2 separate regions of the Homo sapiens genome follow, and region 2 is linked to region 1. Evidence: fine-mapped expression QTL. A gene starts in region 1. The other region holds a variant in brackets. All regions are shown on one strand. Distances are from middle to middle. Region 1 holds the start of LINC02482 (long intergenic non-protein coding RNA 2482). Region 2 has its middle 9.7 kb from the start of MRFAP1.

What was found.
Region 2: its variant is fine-mapped to the expression of LINC02482 in atrial appendage (GTEx, PIP 0.95).

The regions. Positions count from the first base shown.
Region 1 is chr4:6,669,670-6,677,669 of GRCh38, forward strand. LINC02482 (long intergenic non-protein coding RNA 2482) reads right to left here and starts at 4,212. Exons shown (of 2, transcript NR_134665.1): 1 at 4,015-4,212; 2 at 1,059-1,324. MRFAP1L2 (Morf4 family associated protein 1 like 2) reads left to right here and starts at 4,406. Exons shown (of 1, transcript NM_138699.3): 1 at 4,406-6,378. The coding sequence starts at 4,544. The coding sequence ends at 4,903. RefSeq lists an enhancer at 3,400-4,008 and a silencer at 4,481-4,710.
Region 2 is chr4:6,643,371-6,657,339 of GRCh38, forward strand. No RefSeq gene overlaps it. Among named protein-coding and RNA genes, the nearest start is that of MRFAP1, 9.7 kb to the left of the region's middle. The variant G/A (reference allele first, on the strand shown) is at 4,602.

The DNA.
Region 1 (8,000 bases):
ATTCCTCATGGTCTGCAGTTTGGCTGGGAGTTGGATGATCCAGGCTGGGCTCAGTAATGGTCTGCGGGCCACCTGGTCTAGGCTAGGCCTGTCTAGAGCAGCTTGGTTCTGTGTTTCTCTCACCATCTTCCCAAGACCGGTGCCCGTTCTTCTCATAGCGAAGGCAGAGACGCAGAGGAAAGCGAGTCCAACCGCGAAAGCCTCTTTCAAACCTGTGCTTGTGTCCTCTCTGTGAACCTCTCATTGGCCAAAGCAAGACATGAGGCAGAGAACATGGATGAATGAAGGGGTGGGGAATTGGGGTCATTTATACTACCTACCATCATCTGTGCCCACTGCCCCCATTATTCATGGAAAAATTGCCCACCCCCATCTAAGGACCCCCTTCCTACTTTCTTCCAATCATGGCCTCAAGCAAGAAGTCTAGCATCTTGTGAGCCACATCAGGTCCTAATATGGCTTTTATTGGTCTAGAAGCTTATGCACTTTTTGAAAAGACAAGTTATTGTCCACTTAGACCCAACATTCAGTGATGAGACAGGGACAGGATAAGGCCCATTGGTAAGGGAAGAATGAAGGGGTGAAATAGCAGTCACATAGCTATTTTGAAACTCGGTGGAGTAAACATTGCCAGGTCCTCTACTTTAAAGCTAGGGAATGTAAGGCTTTGGTTCTGCAACCTGGAAGTGGCTCAGCAGCACAGGAGTTGGCAAACATTTTCTGTAAAGATCTAAACAGTAAATATGTTAGGCTTTGTGGGCCACATACAGTCTCTATCACATATTCCTATTTCTCCTTTTCTTTTTTAAAGATATGAAAGTCTTTCTTAGTTCAGGAGCTGCAGTTTGCCATTGGTCCCCACACACTGGCCTGCACTGACACATCCTTCTTTTTCCATCACACTTCTGAAAAGGGCATTTTAAAATGCGCCAGTTTGGGCTACTGAGCCTGCTTTCTGCCGGTGGAAAGATTGGGAGTCTAGAAGTCCTTTGACACTTTGAACTGTCGCTTGGATAAGCTAGAGCATTTTTGCTAATATGTTCACCTCGAAACTTTTGTGGGTTTCCATGTATTTTATTCCATTCCACTCATACCAAGAGACAATTCTTTTTGAGGTGTGTTTAGCTCTCTAGACTTAATTACTGCTGTGTTTGTCACATTGGCTGCAGTGAGATCGTGACATTAGGATTCCTGGGAGCCTGCGCTGGGCAGAATTTAAGATGGCTCCTCCATGATCTTCACTCTCTGGGTGAAAACTGTCGGTCAGCCCATGCCCAGGATTGTTGATCAGTGCTGAAGGTCCTGAGGCTGTTTTTAGCATAGTCTAAAACTTAAGCAAAGCAATAATTATAATTGAGCAAGCAAAATTGTTCTTTAACATGGAATCGATGCTGTTACACAACCACATAAGCACTATTTTAGTCCGTTCACGCTGCTCTAACAAAATACCAGAAACTGGGTGTCTTCTAAACAACAGAAATGTATTTTCTGAGTTCTGAAGGCTGAGCAGTACAAGATCACGGTGCCAGCAGGTTTGGTGCCTGGTGAGGGCCCACTTCTGGTTCATAGAAGCCCATCTTTTTGCTATAACCTCCCACAGCAGAAGGGGTAAGGCGGCCCTGTGGAGTTGTTTTATGAGGGTGCTAATCTCATTCATGAAAGCTGAGCCTTCATGACCACATCACCTCCCAAAGACCCCACCTCCTAATATCATCACATTGGGGATTGCTTTGCAACATATGAATTTTGGGGGGACTCACATATTTGGACCATGGCAAGCCCCTTAAAAGCAGAGTTTTCTCCAGCTGGGAGCAGAAGGGGATGACAGAGAGGCTGGAAGGATAAGAAGGATCCGACATGCTCTTACTGGCTTTGAAGATGGAGAGGGCCACGTTTAAGGACCGGAGAGTGACCTGTAGGAGCTGAGAGTGACCTCTGGCCATCAAGCATGGAGGGTCCCCTTAACTTTCTGCTAGAGGTACACAGTGAATAAGCCTAGACACAATGACATGCAGTGGGTGCTTAATAAAGATCTCTTGGGAAATGAGCATTAAAGCAACATTTACTGGGCTCCTGCTGTATGCCAAGCCCATTTCAAGCTGAGGAAACAGATGACTAAACTGACTAAGTACCTGCCCCTAGGGCCTGTTTTCTCGCAGAGGCACTTATATAGTCCAGTGAAGAAAGAAATCTTCCAGAATGATTCCTAAAGGCATATTCAGAGCCTGGCAGGGCTGAGGAAACAGTGGTGAATCAGACCCACCTTGGCCTTGGGTGCCCACAGTGGGTAAAGCCAGACTCCAACTTACAGCCAAAGCCCCAGGCAGAGTGAAGCTTATACCCTTAGGAAAAAAGTAGGGGGAGGCTGGGTCACAGCACTCAGCATCAGCACCGAGGCCGCAGCTCTGTGTTCCAGGAGCATCTGCCCGAGGCAAGAGGGAGCGGAGGCCCTGGCTGGGGGCAAATCCCGACGCTGTGAGCACCTGGCTTCTCGGAGCCTGGAATATTCTAACGGGACCACTGAATTCGGTTGTTTATTATTTTTATTTATTTATTTTGAGACAGGGTCTCGCCCTGTCACTGGGCTGGGGTGCAGTGGCGCAATCAGGCGTTCAGAGCTCACCTCGGTCTCGACCTGCTGGGCTCAAGCAATCTTCCCGGCTCAGCCTCTCAAGTAGCTGGGACTATCGGCACGCGCCACCACGCCCAGCTAATTTCTTGTGTTTTTTTTGGTAGGGTTTTTTCCCTTGTTGCCCAGGCTGGTATGGAACTCCTGAGCTCAAGCGATCCTCTCACCTCAGCCTCCCAAAGTGCTGGGATTATAGGCGTGAGCCACACGCCCGGCCTGGGTGTTTATGATTTAGAATGTTGGTGAGAGGTGACAGTGTGCTGGCAGTCCTCACAGCCCTCGCTCACTCTCGGTGCCTCCTCTGCCTGGGCTCCCACTTTGGCAGCACTTGAGGAGCCCTTCAGCCCACTGCTGCACTGTGGAGGCCCCTTTCTGGGCTGGCCAAGGCCAGAGCCGGCTCTCTCAGCTTGCAGGGAGGTGTGGAGGGAGAGGCGCGAGCGGGCACCGGGGCTGCACACGGCGCTTGCGGGCCAGCTGGAGTTCAGGGTGGGCGTGGGCTTGGTGGGCCCCGCACTCGGAGCAGCCGGCTGGCCCTGCCAGCCCCCGGCAATGAGGGGCTTAGCACCCGGGCCAGCGGCTGCGGAGGGTGTACTGGGTCCCTCAGCAGTGCCAGCCCACCGGCGCTGTGCTCGATTTCTCACCGGGCCTTAGCTGCCTTTCCGAGGGGCAGGGCTCGGGACCTGCAGCCCGCCATGCCTGAGCCTCCCACCCCCTCCATGGGCTCCTGTGCTGCCCGAGCCTCCTCGACGAGCACCACCCCCTGCTCCACGGCGCCCAGTCCCATCACCACCCAAGGGCTGAGGAGTGTGGGCGCACGGTGCCGTTCTCGCAGGCAGCTCCACCTGCAGCCCTGGTGTGGGATCCACTTGGTGAAGCCAGCTGGGCTCCTGAGTCTGGTGGGGATGTGGAGAACCTTTATGTCTAGCTCAGGGATTGTAAATACACCAATCAGCACCGTGTGTCTAGCTCAGGGTTTGTGAATATACCAATCGACTCTGCTGGGGCCTTGGAGAACCTTTGTGTCTAGCTCAGGGATTGTAAACGCACCAATCAGCACCCTGTCAAAACAGACCACTCGGCTCTACCAATCAGCAGGATGTGGGTGGGGCCAGATAAGACAATAAAAGCAGGCTGCCGGAGCCAGCAGTGGCAACCGGCTCAGGTCCCCTTCTATTGTGGAAGCTTTGTTCTTTCTCTCTTTGCAATAAATCCTGCTGCTGCTCACTCTTTGGGTCCACACTGCCTTTATGAGCCGTAACAGGTCTGCAGTTTCACTCCTGAGCCGGCGAGACCACGAACCCACCAGAAGGAAAAAACTCCGAACACATCCGAACATCAGAAGGAACAAACTCCAGACGCGCCACTTTAAGAGCTGTAACACTCACCGCGAGGGTCCGTGGCTTCATTCTTGAAGTCAGTGAGACCAAGAACCCACCAATTCCGGACACATTGGGAACTTAGAGCAGTGCTTGGGACATGGTTATCAGCGTCAGATATTTCCTTAAACTAGCGTGAAGTCGACTTTAACCTTCCAGCAGTGTGAGTGAGGGCCCTGACCCTAGAATCAACGCCCAAAGAGCTGTGGCGCTACAGCGGGCGGGGACATGGGGTGCGCATGCGTGCGGGGGGGTACGCGTGCGTGCAAGTGCGCGTGCGCGCGCAGGACCGCTGAGGCGGGAGCCCCGAATGCGGTTCTCGCTTGCTGCGTGGCGGTAAAGGACCGCAGGTGTCGTAAAAGGGCCGCAGTGGCAGCGTCCTGGCCGACGGCTAGTAGCCCATTTTGGATACCGTCCTCGCTGCGGAAAGTTGGGGCAACCTGTTGCTAGTCTGGTCGTTGGTGACAGCGAGGCTTCCGCGCTCGCTGCTGGTGAGCAGCCCCGGCGTGCCCCGCGGGCTGGAAGAGGCGGCGGCGTGATGCGGCCCGTGGACGCGGACGAGGCGCGGGAGCCCCGCGAGGAGCCGGGCAGCCCGCTGAGCCCCGCGCCCCGCGCCGGCCGCGAGAACCTGGCCTCCCTGGAGCGCGAGCGCGCCCGGGCGCACTGGCGGGCCCGCAGGAAGCTGCTGGAGATCCAGAGCCTGCTCGACGCCATCAAGAGTGAGGTGGAGGCAGAGGAGCGGGGCGCCCGGGCCCCAGCACCCCGCCCGCGTGCGGAGGCTGAGGAGCGGGTGGCTCGGCTGTGCGCCGAAGCAGAGAGGAAGGCTGCGGAGGCGGCGCGGATGGGCAGGCGGATCGTGGAGCTGCACCAGCGGATCGCCGGCTGCGAGTGCTGCTGAGCCGGCGAGGCCGCGCGGGTCTGGAGCGGAGCGCGGCGGGGAGTGTCCCGCGTGGAAGGCGCTGGGTAGGCAGGGAGGGGAGCGCAGAGCCGTGCCACGCTCTCCGCGGAGTTGGTTTCATTCTTTTTTCATAGGTAATTAGAGAAAATAATTTGATATGTTGTTGTAAAGAGTCATGACCACTGGAAGTATTTTCAGGACGTAGACCTGGTGGGTCACTACGTGGGGGGAGAGAGGTGTGAAGCGGAGGTACATGCTGGAAACGTGTGAATGTTGTTACGAGATTGGAGCGTTTGCGATGACCTTCCTGCAGGTGGAAGCATTGTGCACAGGTGGTTGGGTTTGTTTGACTCCCGGATATGAGAATATCAAGCTCAAAATTTATGTTGTGATGATGAATTTCTCCCACTTGTACTTTAGGTGGCCAACTGACGAACTGTGTTCACCTGATAAGGAGTCGTGGCTGCTTGGACAGGCTCAAACCAAGAGAGCCTTTCGTTTTGTCTCCCCTGTTTTTCTGCCTGCGTTTTCTCCACATTAGCCACTCAATTTCCAGTACCATCCTGGCGGATGACTTCAGCATTAGATGGTCAGGTGTATTTTTTTATTAATAGGCGCATTCAGTTTGGAAAAGACAGCTTTTCATTAATGTCCCACGTAAAGGAATATGGCCTATACAGTACGTACGCTGCTGCGTGGTCATATTTGTTCCTGTGATCTTATTGTATTTTCAAAGTTTGGAAGTATACTCGTGTGCTTTGCTGTTTTTTTATGCTTCCTGGAATTTGGGGACTCATGAGAGACTTGAGGTTAGAGTTCTGCAAGTGAGAAGACACTACATGGTTGCAGCTGCCACATGAAGAACCCAAGCTCCTGTCAAAGTTGTGAATGCGACTTTGGATGAGATTAAGAAGGCCCAGTGGACGGTTGGTCTTGAAGAGTGGCAGTGTGTGGATTTGAGGACCTCTGCAGACCATCAGATCAAAGGAGGGAGAGCTGTTTTGGGTGTTTTGTTTTTTTTGTTTTTATAGCATTTTGCTTTTTCTTGGAATGTAATTTTCCTATGGCATGTTAACTGGTGCACATCGTGTAACCTGTCTGGTGAGCAACCTACAATTGGGATGAGTTCTAGGTACATGTGTTTGCTGACTTTGGGGTAAACAACTTTGTTATAATACAGTCTCTGCCACAGATGCATGTGACCTCTTCAGGGGCCCAGAGTGGCTGAGGAAGGAAAGCTTCAAGCTGGCCATGGGGGTCCCAAACAGTCATTCCAGGCTTAGATGATGACTAGCCTAGGTCATCAGAGCCCAGACTCCACAGAGACTAAAATCAGAGCTCTGTCTTGTTATGATAAATTTCATTTGCTTGGAAAAAGAAATGCTGAAAGCCAGTGTTTAGAATCTTTGTGCAGATGACCAAAGCAATTGACTTGGCCAAGAAAAGGTAAGGTAAATAAACATTTTTCAAAATGAGTTTCTCCTTGATAGTGGTCACTGTCAAATGGAGGAGAATTGCTTCTGACTCACGAGTTGTTCAAAGCCTGTAGCCCAGGGTGGGGTTTGAGCTGCAGAAGAAGAAGAAGGCAGACCTAGAGTAGGAAAGGGGTGCCTCATGAAGCCATATGGTCTGGCCCCAGCCTTTGGAGAGGTGAAGTCCATTCAGGCAGCTAGTGTTCACTGTGACCACAGAGCTCCACACTATGCCAGGCACTAGGAATTTCTTGGAGAGACGATCTAGTGGGTTGAGACAGGTCTGAAAACACAATTACAGTACAGTGTCCGCAATGCTGGTCTTTGATTCAACGCATAAATTGAGCACCTACAGATGCTGAGACTACCTGAGTGAACAAAGTGCTTGTAAAATTGGATCTGAGGGCCAGGCATGGTAGCTCATGCCTGTAATCCCATTTCTTTAGGAGGCCTGAGCAGGAGGATTGCTTGAGGCCAGGAGTTTGAGATCAGCCTGGGCAACATGGTGAGACCCTGTCTCTAATAGAAAAAAAAAGTTGGATTTGTTATTCATAAGATGCTTAGAATTGTGTCTGGCTATAGTAAGTGTTTCCTAAGTATTTGTTAGATAACCCCTAAATGAGGGAAGCAGGAAAAAAATGATATGTACCCATATTAAATAGTGTAAGTTCTGTGGGGGAAAAAAATGGCATTGGGGGATAGGGTGTGGGATTTCTAGTTGATTTGCATGGTCAGGTAACATGTCTGATATGACATTTGAGTGAAGGCTGATGTGTGGAATGTGCATGGGTGTCTGGGGAAAGAGTCTTCTAGGCACGGGGAACAAGTAGGGTAAAAAGGTGAGGCAGCATGAAACCCCAGTGGGAAGGGAGGAAGTGGTGGGCACCGAGGTCAGAGGGAGAAGTGGGTGGATGTGAAGCTGGTGGGGGGTTGCCAGCAGAGGAGCGATGGGAGCTGACCATCTGAGGTGGTGGCTGCTGTGCTCAGGCCTGACAGTGGGGGACCAGGACAAGAGTGGGAGGCAGCGTGGAGAGTGGAGCACGCGCTGTGTGGATGGGGACGGGTGTGGACTGCGTTGGGAAAGTGCCGAGGGCCTGCCTGTGGACATGAGAGGATTCAGCAATGGCTCTGAGGCTCGGGACCTGAGCACCTATTTAGTACCATTTGTCAAACAAACTGGGCCACTTTTGAAAGTGAAGGGTGGCTCTATTAATAGAAATTCATCTGGGACTGCAGATGTAAACAAGGACTTTCACAGGCAAAGAGGTGCTTACGCTGTGTCTGGTGGGAGGACTTAGGGAGGAGTCCCCTCAGACCCACTGACTTGCTCTGAGCGGAAGCATGGGCACAGCTACACAAACAGCACCTCAAGCATGGGGAACACGAAACAGGCCAGGGGCCCAGCGTGGGCTGCAGAGGCCGCCCGTGGATGGAAATGGGGCGGGGGGAATGGGGGATCCTTCGGGAGACCTGTCTTTGAGTCTTGTGTCTCGGGTAAGGCAAGCGCGCTTACAGTTAAATACATTTCCTTTTTTAAAAAAATTTTCCCTGGGATTGTTAAATTTGCTTTAGCAAACTTGTAAAGAGGAACATCATTATATAGGATGTCAGTGGGATGGCAGGAG
Region 2 (13,969 bases), 23 kb before region 1:
CACCTCCTCCCCCGTCCCAGCCTTGCATTCCTCCTCTTCCACAAGTGTTAATCCCTAAAAAACGTGCATCTAGTTTTCATCTTGGAGTCCACTTTCTGGGCAACCTAGTTGGTAGAAATCAAACAAAGCCATGTGTCCCTAGCACTAATAAAGATAGAATGTCCCAGGAGAACACTTGAGGGGGAGGTCTAGGAAAGCTTTCCAGAGCAAGTAACTCTTTCAGAGCTTGGCCTTGAAAGAGGAGCACAGCTTCCGAGGTCAGGAAGAGCAGGAGAGGCATGCTAGGCACAGGAAACAATGGAAGATGTTCAAGGTTTTCTGTGTGAGTTCCACACAGAGGAGGGAGAAGAAATGTATAGGACAGAATTATGAACTGGGAAACAACCACGAAAACTACATTTCGTACATTTGCCAAAACAAGAAATGTAACATTGGTACAACACTACCAACTAGACTTTTCTCTGCTTTCACCAGTTTCCCCACTAAGGCCCTTTTTCTGTTCTGGGATACTACATTGCATCGGGAAGTCGATTGTTTTCAATGAGTAAGATTTATAAATGACACGAAAGTGATCCTTCATCTCTCCCCAGCTTCCCAGTTCCCCTCTCAGGAAACTAGAAGTTTCTTATACATCCTTACAAATACTAATGTGTTTGAACGGCTTCCACTTTTTTTTGTTTTTGGTGAGACAGGGTCTCTGTGTCTCACAGGCTGGAATGCAGTGTTGTGACCACTCACTGCAGCCTTGACTTCCTGGTGTCAGGTGATCCTCCCACCTCAGCCTCCCTGGTAGCTGGGACCAGGCATACACCACCATTTCTGGCTAATTTTTGTATTTTTTTTTTTTTTTTTTTGTGGAGGTGGGGTTTCGCTATTTGTCCAGGCTGGTCTTGAACTCTTGGGCTCAAGTGATCACCTTAGCCTCCTGAGTAACTGGAACACCACCGCGGTTAATTTTTGTATTTTTTGTAGACAGTTGTTTGCCATCTTGGCCATTTTGGTCTCAAATTCCTGAGCTCAAGCCATCCACCCACCTTGGCCTCCCAAAGTGCTAGCAATACAGGCATGAGCCACTGCGCCCAGGCCACCTGTTTGTTTTGTTTTGTTTTTTACATTAATGGTAGCACACTGTATAATCTGTTCGTGTCCTTCATTTGTTTACTTGGAAGTCTTTTCCTATCTAACATCTAAATCTGCATTCTTTTTTTTTTTAAGGCTGCATAGTGTTCATTCTTATGCCAGAGTTTGAAAACTATTGTCCTAAAATCTTTCCAGTAACTCCTTAGTTCCTCTTTTTTATGATTCTGGTCACAACTGCAATGCAGCCACTAATTCCCAATTGCCCCAGCTCCTGAATTTCATACTCCTGGCTTGCTAGCAATTGGAGGAGCAATCCAATCTTGCATTTTCTAAGCAAAGAATGTGGTAAGAAGCATTCTGAGAGACAGTCTTACGTGGCTGTACAGTCATTAAATTTTCTGGCTGGAGTTGCCATATTTATTTATTTGTTTATTTATTTATTGAGACAGGGTCTAACTCTGTTGCCCAGGCTGGAGTGTAGTGGCATGATCTTGGCTCACTGCAACTTCTGCCTCCCAGGGCTCAAGCAATTCTCCTGCCTCAGCCTCCCGCGTAGCTGGGGTTACATGTGGGTGCCACCATGCCCTGCTAATTTTGGCATTTTTAGTAGAGACAGGGTTTCACTATGTTGGCCAGGCTGGTCTTGAATTCCTGGCCTCAAGTGATCCACCTGCCTTGGCCTCCCAAAGTCCTGGTATTACAGGATGGCAGAGCTGGAAATAACCTCAGAGAGCAATGAAGCTTTTCTGGGTTAAAATGTAGAAGTCATTAGTGCTGTTCACCAAATAAATTCCAATTCTCTGCCTTCTAGGCACAGAGTAAGATGGCACTTTCTGGCCCCCTTGGGGTTGGGTGGGCCCACGTGATTAATTCTGGCCGATGAGCTACAAAGGAAACTTACATCTGTTGCATCCAACCCAGAACCTCCAAAGCAACACCCTGCAGAGCTGTCTCTTCCCTCTGGCACAGGAACCAGCAACATTCCAGATGGTGGCTGAGCTTAATGACCACAGTTCCCTACCAATCTATGATGAGTATATACCACAAACAAGGAAAAACCTTAGTTGTTTTAAGCCACTGAGATTTGGGGATTGTTTGTTACAATAACAACTTAGACTAAGATGACTGATACAGATATTCATTATTTCTTCCATTCCTTGTGTTTTGATGAAAGGGTTGTTCTCCCTTCTACCTGAGGCCCGTTGATCACATCCCTCCCACTAGCCCAGGCATTGTCCAACAGGTTATCTTCTGTCTCTGGCTTTCACGTGGAGCTCTTGACTTTCCTCTGCCTTCTAATGACTTCAAGGTGAAAGAAAGCGCTAGTTCAAACTCCTACTCCTGGCCATTCTCCCCCTTCCAGGCAGCAGGTAAACATGGAGTGGCTTGAGTTTCTACCATCTTCCAGAGATAAATGGGGATTTATTACCCTGGTTAACACTGTGGCCAGGTAAATCTACAAAATCCATCCAGTGCCTGCTTCAGTCACTGCCTGATATGGTTTGGCTGTGTCCCCACCCAAATCTCATCTTGTCCTGGGAGTGACCCGGTGGGAGGTCACTGAATCATGGGGTGGTTACCCCCATACTGTTCTTGTGATAGTGAGTTTCCACGAGATCTGATGGTTTTACAAGGGGCTTTTTCCCCTTTGCTCTGCACTTCTCCTTCCTGCCGCCATACGAAGAAGGACAGGTTTGCTTCCCCTTCTGCCATGATTGTAAGTTTCCTGAGGCCTCCCCAGCCATGTGGAACTGGGAGTCAATTAAACCTCTTTCCTTTATAAATTATCAGTCTCGGGTATTTCTTCATAGCAGCATGAGAACAGACTAATACACAGCCCAGCATATGTTAGACCCTCTCTGAGTCAATTCTCTTTTCCCCGTCTCTGATTTCCATAATGTTCTGTGGTACCTATTTACTGGTTTATATCCCCATTGCTTCCTCCTTCAAACTCTATACCATGGTTCACAAAATCCTGCATTCCATTATTCCCAAATTAATCCATATTATTCTTTGCCTCTTCAAAGAACATTTCTTTACCAACTCTTAACAGCTGAAACTAGATTTTCCCCAAGCCCTGGGCTTCCCTGTAGCCTTGTTGGTGATGGTTCCTTACAGCACTTGCCCACTGCCTGGGGCAGATACTGCGTTCATCAGGACTGCATTTTTGCCAGAGAGGAGTGAAAAAAGAAAAAAAGAGCTTAGGGTTTTGACAAGGACATCACTGCAACAATACATGATGTACTCTGAGTGGGGAAGTATGGAGGTGAAGAGCAGGAGAGCAATAGGCGAAAGTAGCTGGTAAAGTGAATGGAGATCCCAGCATGTTAGTGACTACAGTGAAAGTGTCACCTGGAGGATGGGATGTGGCCAGAAAATAGGAGGGCTGATATTGGAAAGCAATTTATCATATTAAAAACTCTGATTGTCAAATAAAATGTATCTGTGGATGACATCCTGCGAGCTACGTGCTTCTGGGGCCTCAGATCAATTCTTGTTTTAACACCTGTGAAGCATTTACTATGTGCCAGTTACCTACAATTCCTCAAAAGCCTTTCACGACCCCTCAGTGGGGCAGATGCCATTATTAAAATTAGTCTCGTCTTATCAATGAGGCACAGAGATATTAAGTAGGCCAGGTCTGAGACAATAACAAGCCCCAAGTCACTCTTGGGAGTGAATGGCCAAGCAGGGTGGAGGAGCTCCTTGGATATGAGGGCCCAGGTGTGGGGCTGGTGGCTGTGTGAGCATGGAATTCGCTCAGGACGATGGCAGGGCTTGGGGTGGAGGGGAAGGCCAGGAGCCAGGTGCCCAAGTTTGCAGTGAATGACGGGACTCCAATGGGGTGAAAAGAGATTGGAGGATGACAGAGGTGAGAAGAGGGAGAGGACAGTCAGATGACCAGGGAGTGCTCCCAAGGAGCACCATTTTGGACAAGAGGGAGGAGAAGTAGAGTGTGGACATGGCCTGGGAGAACACTGCCCCCAAATTCTGATTGACACACGAGGGACATATAGAAATGAGTGGCTTTTCCCTCACAGGCCTGAGGATGAAATAGCACTATTCTCAGGGGTAAGGTCGGGGGAGGGCAGAGCTCCTCCAAGAAGTCAGGCACATGCTGGAGGCCCAGGAACAGGTTTGGGGGTGAAGAGGAGTGGAGAACATCACTGGAAACTTGTCCTAGGCTGAGTTCTCCTTGGTTCATCAATGGGAGAAACAGCAGTGACAGGCTAGTAAGTTTAGTCCTGAATTTAGTCTCTTTGAGGGAGGACAGGCATGGCCTTGGTGTGATCGCTATGGAGGCAAAGATGTGGCAGTTGGAGACTGTCACTCAACTGTGCTTCCTGCAGTAGCTTCTATGAATGAGCTTGGAGAGGCACCACTGCTGGTCATTTGGGGCCTCACAGGAAAGGGGTTCTGCATCCCAAACCCAAAGAGTTACGGGAGATGGCTCCAAAAGAAGCCATCTTACAGGGAAATGAGACTGAGGCCCCAAACCTTTCTCAAGCATCTTCAGTAAA[G/A]GTCCTTCCTCAGAAAGTGAGTGCCAGTCACGTGGGCAAACACCAGCTGATGACTGTCACCTTCCTGTCAAGGACACTGGCTCCACAGGGACACCACTGGGAAAGCAGGGGAAGGACAGAGCGCAGTGAGGAAAATGCCGGCATCTTCACAAGATTTGGGCTGTGGCTGCCTGCACATTGGGGCTGGCTGACAGCAAACAGGCAGGAAGCATCTGAGCGGGTCTTGTTTGTGGTGTTTTTTTTGTTTGTTTTTTTTTTTTGAGATGGAGTCTCGCATTGTCGCCCAGGCTGGAGTGCAGTGGCATGATCTCGGCTCACTGCAAGCTCTGCCTCCCGGGTTCACACCGTTCTCCTGCCTCAGCCTCCCGAGTAGCTGGGACTACAGGCAGCCGCCACCACGCCCGGCTAATTTTTTGTAATTTTAGTAGAGAAGGGGTTTCACCATGTTAGCCAAGATGGTCTTGATCTCCTGACCTCGTGATCCGCCTGCCTCGGCCTCCCAAAGTGCTGGGATTACAGGCATGAACCACCGCGCCCGGCCCCCTTGTTTGTGTTTTTATTTCTTGTTTTCCTTTTGTTTTTTTGAGACATGGGGTCTTGCTTTGCCCAAGCTGGAGTGCAGTGGTCTGATCACAGCTCACTGCAGCCTTAACCACCCAGGCTCAAGCGATCCTCCTGCCTCAGCCTCTCCAGTAGCTGGGACCACAGGCATGTACCACCTCACCTGGCTAATTTTTTTATTTTTATTTTTTAGAGAGATACGGTTTCCCTACGTTGCCCAGGCTGGTCTCAGACTCCTGGGCTCAAGCAATCCTCCTGCCTCAGTCTCCCAAAGTCATCCGAAGGTTTTGAAGGAAATATATGGCCAAAGAAATTCCAAGGTGAGTCTGCTAAAACTTGGGGTTGTTCAGCCCCTGAAGGAAGTGCTGAGCCCCAGCACCTGCACCAGCATGAAGAAGGCTTCAGAAACTGCAAAGCCCCTGGAGGGGGCAACCTCTGAGGCACATTTCATACAAGGCCTGAGAAGATAATAGATAATAAAGTCTCCCTGAGGCAAAAGCCAGGGACCTAGAGGGAAGGAGGCAAAATAGTTTCTGCTAGAGAGCAAGACCTTTGATGATCCCCAAAGGCCATAGGCACCATGTATTTCCCATTCCTCCCTTTTCCTCCCTATTCTGTGTGTTAGAAGCAAGCCAGCCCATACTCCAGGAGAGAAGAATTATGCTCCACCTACTGAAGAGATGAGTAGCAAGAAGATTGTGGACATATTTTTTTAATCTTTTCAAATTCCTTTTTATCATGTGGACGTATTTTTAAAACCACCACCACTATTGTCGTTATGAGGTAGGGGGCGGGACTCGACTCTGGAGGCAGGGTTTAGACTCCAGACCAGACTGAGACTAGCTGAAACAAGGAAGAGTTGGAAGCCTCTCCATGAGACACGCCCACCAGTGCCATCAGTTTACCATTGCCATGGCAACCCCCAGAAGTTACAGCCGCTTTCCATGGCGATGACCCAATGACACAGAAGTTACCACCTCTTTTCTAGAACTTTCTGCATAATCTACCCCTTAATTTTTTTAGTGTATTACTTTATTTATTTTTTCTTTTTATTGAGACAGAGTCTTGCACTGTCGCCCAGGCTAGCGTGCAGTGACGCGATCTCGGCTCACTGCAACCTCCGCCAACCAGGTTCGAGCGATTCTCCTGCCTCAGCCTCCCAAGTAACTAGGATTATAGGTGCCTGCCACCATGTCCAGCTAATTTTTTTGTATTTTTAGTAGAAACGGGGTTTCACTATGTTGGCCAGTCTGGTCTCGAACTCTGACCTCATGATCTGCCCACCTCAGCCTCCCAAAGCGCTGGGATTTCAGGAGTGAGCCACCACACCCAGACTTTTTTTTTATTTTTTGAGACAGAGTCTCCCTCTGTCACCCAAGCTGGAGTGCAGTGGCACGATCTCAGTTCACTGCAACCTCCACTTCCTGGGTTCAAGCAATTCTCCTGCCTCAGCCTCCCTAGTAGCTGGGATTATAGGCATGAGCCACCTCACACCCAGCTAATTTTTGTATTTCAGTAGAGACAGGGTTTCACCATGTTGGCCAGGATGGTCTCAAACTCCTGATCTCAAGCAATCCACCCACCTCAGCCTCCCAAAATGCTGGGATTACAAGCATGAGCCACCGCACCTGGCATCTACCCCTTAATTTGCATGTAATTAAAAGTGGGCATAAATATGACTGCAGAACTGCCCTGAGCAGCTCCTCTGGGCTCACTGCCTATGAGCACACCACCTGTGCTGCTACTGTGCACTGCTGCATCAATAACTCTTGCTGTCTACCACCACTGGCTCACCCTTGAATTCCTTCCTGGAGGAAGCCAAGAACCCTCCCAGGCTAAGCCCCAATTTGTCCTGCATCAGTTATATTCCCATGATATGATGTCTCTGAGACATCATAGATTCAAAAGAATCTAAACTGCCAACATTAATAATAGTTTCTAGAGTTTCAAGGTTTCTAGACACAAAAATCAATAAAAATCAGTAGTGTTTCTCTTTACCGGGAACGAAGAGGAAATATATTTTCTGAAAGGTACCACTGATAATAGAACCCAAAAACTTTTTTTTAATGGTGTGTTTCCTTGGGATACCATAACAAACTGCCACAAATTAAGTGGCTTAAAACAGAAATTTGTTTTTTCATAGTTCTGGAGTCTAAAATTAAGGTGTTGGCAGGGCCATGGGCTCTCTGAACCATCTGGGCAAGAATCTTTCCTTGCTTCTCCCTGGCTTCTGGTAATTGTCAGCAATTCTTGGCATTCCTTGGCTTGTGGCTGCGTCAGTCCAGTCTGCCTCCATTATCCCATGGCCTTCTTCCCTTTGTCTTCATGGAAGGACACCAGTCATTGCATTTAGAGCCCGCTCTCATCCAGTCTAACCTCATCTTAACTAGGTCTGCAAAGAACCTATTTTCAATAAAGTCACATTCTAAGGTTCTGGGCAGAAAAATTTTGCAGGGACATTATTCAACCCAGTACAAATGGTTGGAAAATATATATTCGTATATATTAAATTTTTAATATGTGAAAAACCATTATGCATAAAATTATGTTGAAATACATTAAATAATGACAAAATAGATTAAGAAAATTAGTATCATAATTATTCTCCAAACTGCTCCCACAAATCAAGGCAGTCCCAATAAAAATCTCTTCAGATGGGTCTGTTTTGATTGTTTGGGTTGAATTTACAAAAAAAATTAATTTGAGGGCTGAGTACAGTGGCTCATGCCTGTAATCCCAGCATGTTGGGAGGCCAAGGCAGGAAGATCACTTGAGGCCAAAAATTCAAACCCAGCCTAGGCTACATAGTAAGACCCCATCTCTACCAAAAAAAAAAAAAAAATTAGCTGTGTGTGGTGGTGCATGCCTGTAGTCCCAACTACTCAGGAGGCTGAGGCAGGAGGATTGCTTGAGCCTGGGAGTTCCAGGCTGGAGTGAGCTATGATTGCACTACTGCACTCCAGCCTGGGCAACAGAGCAAGGCCCTGTCTCTAAAACTAAAATAAAAATAAAAACCATGAATTTGGCTGGGCATAATGGCTCACACTTGTAATCCCAGCACTTTGGGAGGTGGAGGCAGGCATATCACTTGAGCCCAGGAGTTCAAGATCAGCCTGGGCAACATGGCAAAACCTAGTCTCTACAAAAAATTTAAAAATTAGCTGCATGTGGTGGCAAATACCTGTAATTCCAGCTACTCTGGAGGCTGAGGCAGGAGATCTCTTGAGTCTGGTGGGTGTGGGGAGGAGCACAGGGAACTCACAAATTTGAAATTTAGATGGACAAGCAGAAAGCCAGGATATTCCTGCAGTAGCACCAGATGGGAGGCCTTGCTATACTTTACCAAATATTAATATTTATTATAAAGCTAACAGTAATTAAGTCAATGGAGTAATGGCCCAGAGATAGGTAAAGACCAGTGGAACAGAGTATACAGCCCAGATACAGATATGAGCAAATATGGACATACGATACCTGACACACGTTACACAGCAACCCAGAAAGAATGGATAAAACAGTCAGCATGGGCCCACCGCGGTAGCTCACGCCTGTAATCCCAGCACTTTGGGAGGCCGAGGCGGGCGGATCACGAGGTCAGCAGATCAAGACCATCCTGGCCAACGTGGTGAAACTCCGTCTCTACTAAGATACAAAAAATTAGCTGGGCATGGTGGCACATGCCTGTAGTCCCAGCTACTTGGGAGGCTGAGGCAGGGGAATCGCTTGAACCCGGGAGGTGGAAATTGCAGTGAGCCAAGATCTCACCAGGCTGGTGACACAGCAAGACTCAAAAAAAAAAAAAAAAAAAAAAAACCACCACCAACAACAAAAACAGTCACCATGTAGGGCTAGGACAAATGGCTATACATGTGGGGGAAACTGCAATTAGATCCCTGCCACAAACATCACAAAAAAATTATTTTCAGATGGAGTAACCCACAGATATAAAAAACTAATTATCTAACTAAATACTTTAGAGAACTTAAAGGAAAATTTGTATGGCTTCAGAGCATGAAAGGCTTTCTTTACAAGACAAAAAGCAAAAAGCAGAAAAGACTGATATTTTGTCTTCACCAAAACTAAAATCTTAACTTATACATGAATGCTGATGGCAGCATATACTAGTCAAAAGGCAGAAACAACCCAAATGGCCACCAACAGAATCAACTGATGAATGAATAAACATTCATTCATAAACTGCGGAATAGCCATACAAAGAAATATTATTCAGCCATAAAAATTAACAAAGTATAGCCAGGCACAGTGGCTCACGCCTGTAATCCCAGCACTTTGGGAGGCTGAGGCAGCAGATCACCTGATGTCAGGAGTTCAAGACCATCCTGGCCAACATGGAGAAACCCCGTCTCTACTTAAAATACAAAAATTAGCTGGTGTGGTGGGGCATGCCTGTAGTCCCAGGTACTCAGGAGGCTGAGGCACGAGAATCGCTTGAACCTGGGAGGCGGAGGTTGCAGTGAGCCAAGATCATACCACTGCACTCCAGCCTGGGTGACACAGTCAGACTTTGTCTAAAAAAAAAAAAAAAGAAAGAAAGAAAGAAAGAAAAAGAAAAGGCCATCTTCAAGCCAGGGAGAGAGGCCTCAGGAGAAGCCAACCCTGCTGGCACCATGATCTTGAACTTTCAGGCTCCAGAATCATGAGAAAGTAGATTTTTGTTGTTTTAAACACCCAGTCTGTGGTATTCTGTTACGGCAGCCCTAGCAGACTAACACATATGATATGTACAGACAGGTAAATCCACAGAGACAGAAAGGAGATGAGTATTGGCCATTGGGTAAGGGGAGGCAGGATGTGGAGTGATTATTATATGAGTACTGGGTTTTGTTTTGTTTTGTTTTTTTGAGATGGAGTCTCACTCTGTCGCCCAGGCTGGAGTGCAATGATGCAATCTTGGCTCCCTGCAACCTCCGCCTCCCAGGTTCAAGCGATTCTCCTGCCTCAGCCTCCCAAGTAGCTGGAATTATAGGCACCCGCCACCACGACTGGCTGATTTTTGTATTTTAAGTAGAGACGGGGTTTCACCACGTTGGCCAGTCTGGTCCTGAACTCCTGACCTTGTGATCGGCCCACCTCGGCCTCTAAAAGTGCTGGGATTACAGGCGTGAGCCACCGCACCTGGCCTTGAGTACTGGGTATTTTTATAGAAAGATGAGAAAGTTTTGAAACTAGAGAGAGCTAGTGGTTACACAATATTGTGAATACACTAAATACCACTTAATTGTACACTTTAAAGTGGGTAATTATGTTACATTAATTTCACCTCAATTTTTAAAGAAGCCAGAACAGTCCAATTCATGGGACAGAAAGTAGAATGGTGGATGCCAGGGGCTGGGGGAGGGAGGATTGGGGAATTAATGTTTAATGGGGACAAAGTTTCAGTTTGGGAGGATGAAAAAGTTCTTGAGGCAGATGGTGGTGATGGTTGCACAGTTTGAATGGACTTACTGCCACTGAACTGTACCCTTAAATGGTTAAATGGTAAATCTACTATGCATATTTTACTATAATAAATTTATTTTACTTTTTTGCAGTCAATTTTTAAGCTAAAATATGGTGCTAATCAAAGGAACCATCATCAAAGTGAAAAGTTGAGCTGCATTCTGTGCTATCTTCTCGATTTTTCTATAAACCTAAAACTGTTCTAAAAAATAAAGTCCATTTAAAAGAAAATAGTCAAGCTTCAATTGGGAGAAGATATTTGCAACACACACTCTAGAGGAAATATTAAAGAGAATCCACCAAAATGTATAAAAAGATAGGGTTAGAAAAAAAGCCCACATTGCCAAGTCAATCCTAAGCCAAAAGAACAAAGCTGGAGGCATCACGCTACCTGACTTCAAACTACACTACAAAGCTACAGTAACCAAAACAGCATGGTACTGGTACCAAAACAGAGATACAGACCAATGGAACAGAACAGAGCCCTCAGAAATAACACCACACATCTACAACCATCTGATCGTTGACAAACCTGACAAAAACAAGAAATGGCGAAAGGATTCCCTATTTAATAAATGGTGCTGGGAAAACTGGCTAGCCATATGGAGAAAGCTGAAACTGGATCCCTCCCTTACACCTTATACAAAAATTAATTCAAGATGTATTAAAGACTTAAATGTTAGACCTAAAACCATAAAAACCCTAGAAGAAAACCTAGGCAATACCATTCAGGACATAGGCATAGGCAAGGACTTCATGTCTAAAACACCAAAAGCAATGGCAACTAAAGCCAAAATTGACAAATGGGATCTAATTAAACTAAAGAGCTTCTGCACAGCAAAAGAAACTACCATCAGAGTGGACAGGCAACCTACAGGATGGGAAAAAATTTTTGCAATCTACTCATCTGACAAAGAGCTAATATCCAGAATCTACAAAGAAATCAAACAAATTTACAAGAAAAAAACAAACAACCCCATCAAAAAGTGGGCGAAGGATATGAACAGACACTTCTCAAAAGAAGACATTTATGCAGCCAACAGACACATGAAAAAATGCTCATCATCACTGGCCATCAGAGAAATGCAAATCAAAACCACAATGAGATACCATCTCACACCGGTTAGAATGGCGATCATTAAAAAGTCAGGAAACAACAGGTGCTGGAGAGGATGTGGAGAAATAGGAACACCTTTACACTGTTGGTGGGTCTATAAACTAGTTCAACCATTGTGGAAGACAGTGTGGCTATTTCTCAAGGATCTAGAACTAGAAATATCATTTGACCCAGCAATCCCATTACTGGGTATATACCCAAAGGATTATAAATCATGCTGCTATAAAGACATATGCACACATACGTTTATTGCAGCACTATTCACAACAGCAAAGACTTGGAATCAACCCAAATGTCCATCAATGATAGACTGGATTAAGAAAATGTGGCACATATACACCATGGAATACTATGCAGCCATAAAAAAGGATGAGTTCATGTCCTTTGTAGGGACATGGATGAAACTGGAAACCATCATTCTCAACAAACTATCACAAGGACAAAAAACCAAACACCGCATGTTCTCACTTATAGGTGGGAATTGAACAATGAGAACACTTGGACACAGGAAGGGGAACATCACACACTGGGGCCTATTGTGGGGTTGGTGGGGAGAGGGGAGGGATAGCATTAGGTGATATACCTAATGTAAATGACGAGTTAATGGGTGCAGCACACCAACATCGCACGTGTATACATATGTAACAAACCTGCAAGTTGTGATCACATACCCTAGAACTTAAAGTATAAAAAAAAAAAAAGAAGATAGGGTTAGAATTAGGGTTAGGAGAACCCAGAGGAGAATAATAAGGTGGGGGCACGGCTTTGAGGGTCTTCATTCATTTTTATCCATCCTTAGACTTTCTGCAGACTAAGCTTCAAGTTTTCAACTGCTGCTACAACAAATTATCACAAATTAACAGCTCAAAATAACACACATTTATCATCATAGTCCTGAAGGTCAGAAGTCACGAATGGCTTAGAAGGTTTCTCTGCTCTAGGTCTCACAAGGCCAAAATCAAGGTGTTGGCTGGCTGGGCTCCTATCAGGAGGCTCCAGAGAGAAACCGCTTCTAAGTGCATTCAGGTTGCTGGCAGAATCCAGTTCCTTGTGGTTGCAGGCTGGGCTTCAGCTGGGGGCCACATTTAGCTCCTGGAGGCCTCCCTCCTGTCCTTTCATGTGGCCACCTGTGTCTCAAAACCAGCAGTGGTTTGTCAAATCCTCCTCATTGTCCAACCCCCCGCCCCGCCCCGCCCCAGCCACAAAGCTGTGAAGCTAGGGTCCAAACCCCCCACATCTCAGAGTCAGCACAGGCAGGACCAGTCATCTCCTGCTTGGAATAGCACGGATTTCTTCTGCCAAATCTCTCTTCTGCCTTCGTTTTCTATCTCTGACTCCAGCCTAGGAGCGTTTTTCACTTTAAGGACTCAGGATTAGGCTGGGCCTACCTGGATAATCCAGGCTATTCATTCTCCTTAAGACCCTTAACTTTAATTACATGAGCAAAATCCATTTTGCCATGTAATATGATATATTCGTAATTACAAAATATGTCATATAATTTATAACACAATCACAGGTTCCAGGGATTAGGATGTGGACTTCTATGGGGGTCACTCTGCCTGCCACACCTCCCTAGAGGTGATGGTACCCAACTCCACTAAGTTCAGGTGGTGGCACAGGCCAAGAGAGCTACCCTCAGGCTGATTGGCCCTCAGTCCCCCAGCCAGCAGGTTGTGAAGCCAGGGTCCGAATATTGGATGTAGTTCCCACACGACTCTGAATGCACTGTGTAGTCTAATGACTGTCATAGTAGCGATGCCACCTGCCTCTGCCTGGTGTTTTGGCAACTGTACAATGCACTGTCATGCCTTTTTTTCTCACTTCTCTCACAGTCACAGGGGCCTACCAGCTCCATTTCACCCCTAGAGAACTGAGTTTCCAATCAGGGGCACTTGTGCAAGCAGGGTCTCCCCAGTCTTTACCATTAGCCCGTTTGTGGGCCACAGACCAGGAATATAAACGTATCTTTTTTTTTTTTTTTTTAGACAAAGTCTCAGGCTAGTCACCCAGACTGGAGTGCAATGGCTGGATCTCAGCTCACTGCAACCTCCGCCTCCCGGGTTCAAGCGATTCTCCTGCCTCAGCCTCCCGAGTAGCTGGGACTACAGGCATGCGCCACCACCCCCAGCTAATTTGTGTACGTTTAGTAGAGACGGGGTTTCACCATGCTGGCCAGGCTAGTCTCAAACTCCGGACTTCAGGTGATCCGCCCACCTCGGCGTCCCAA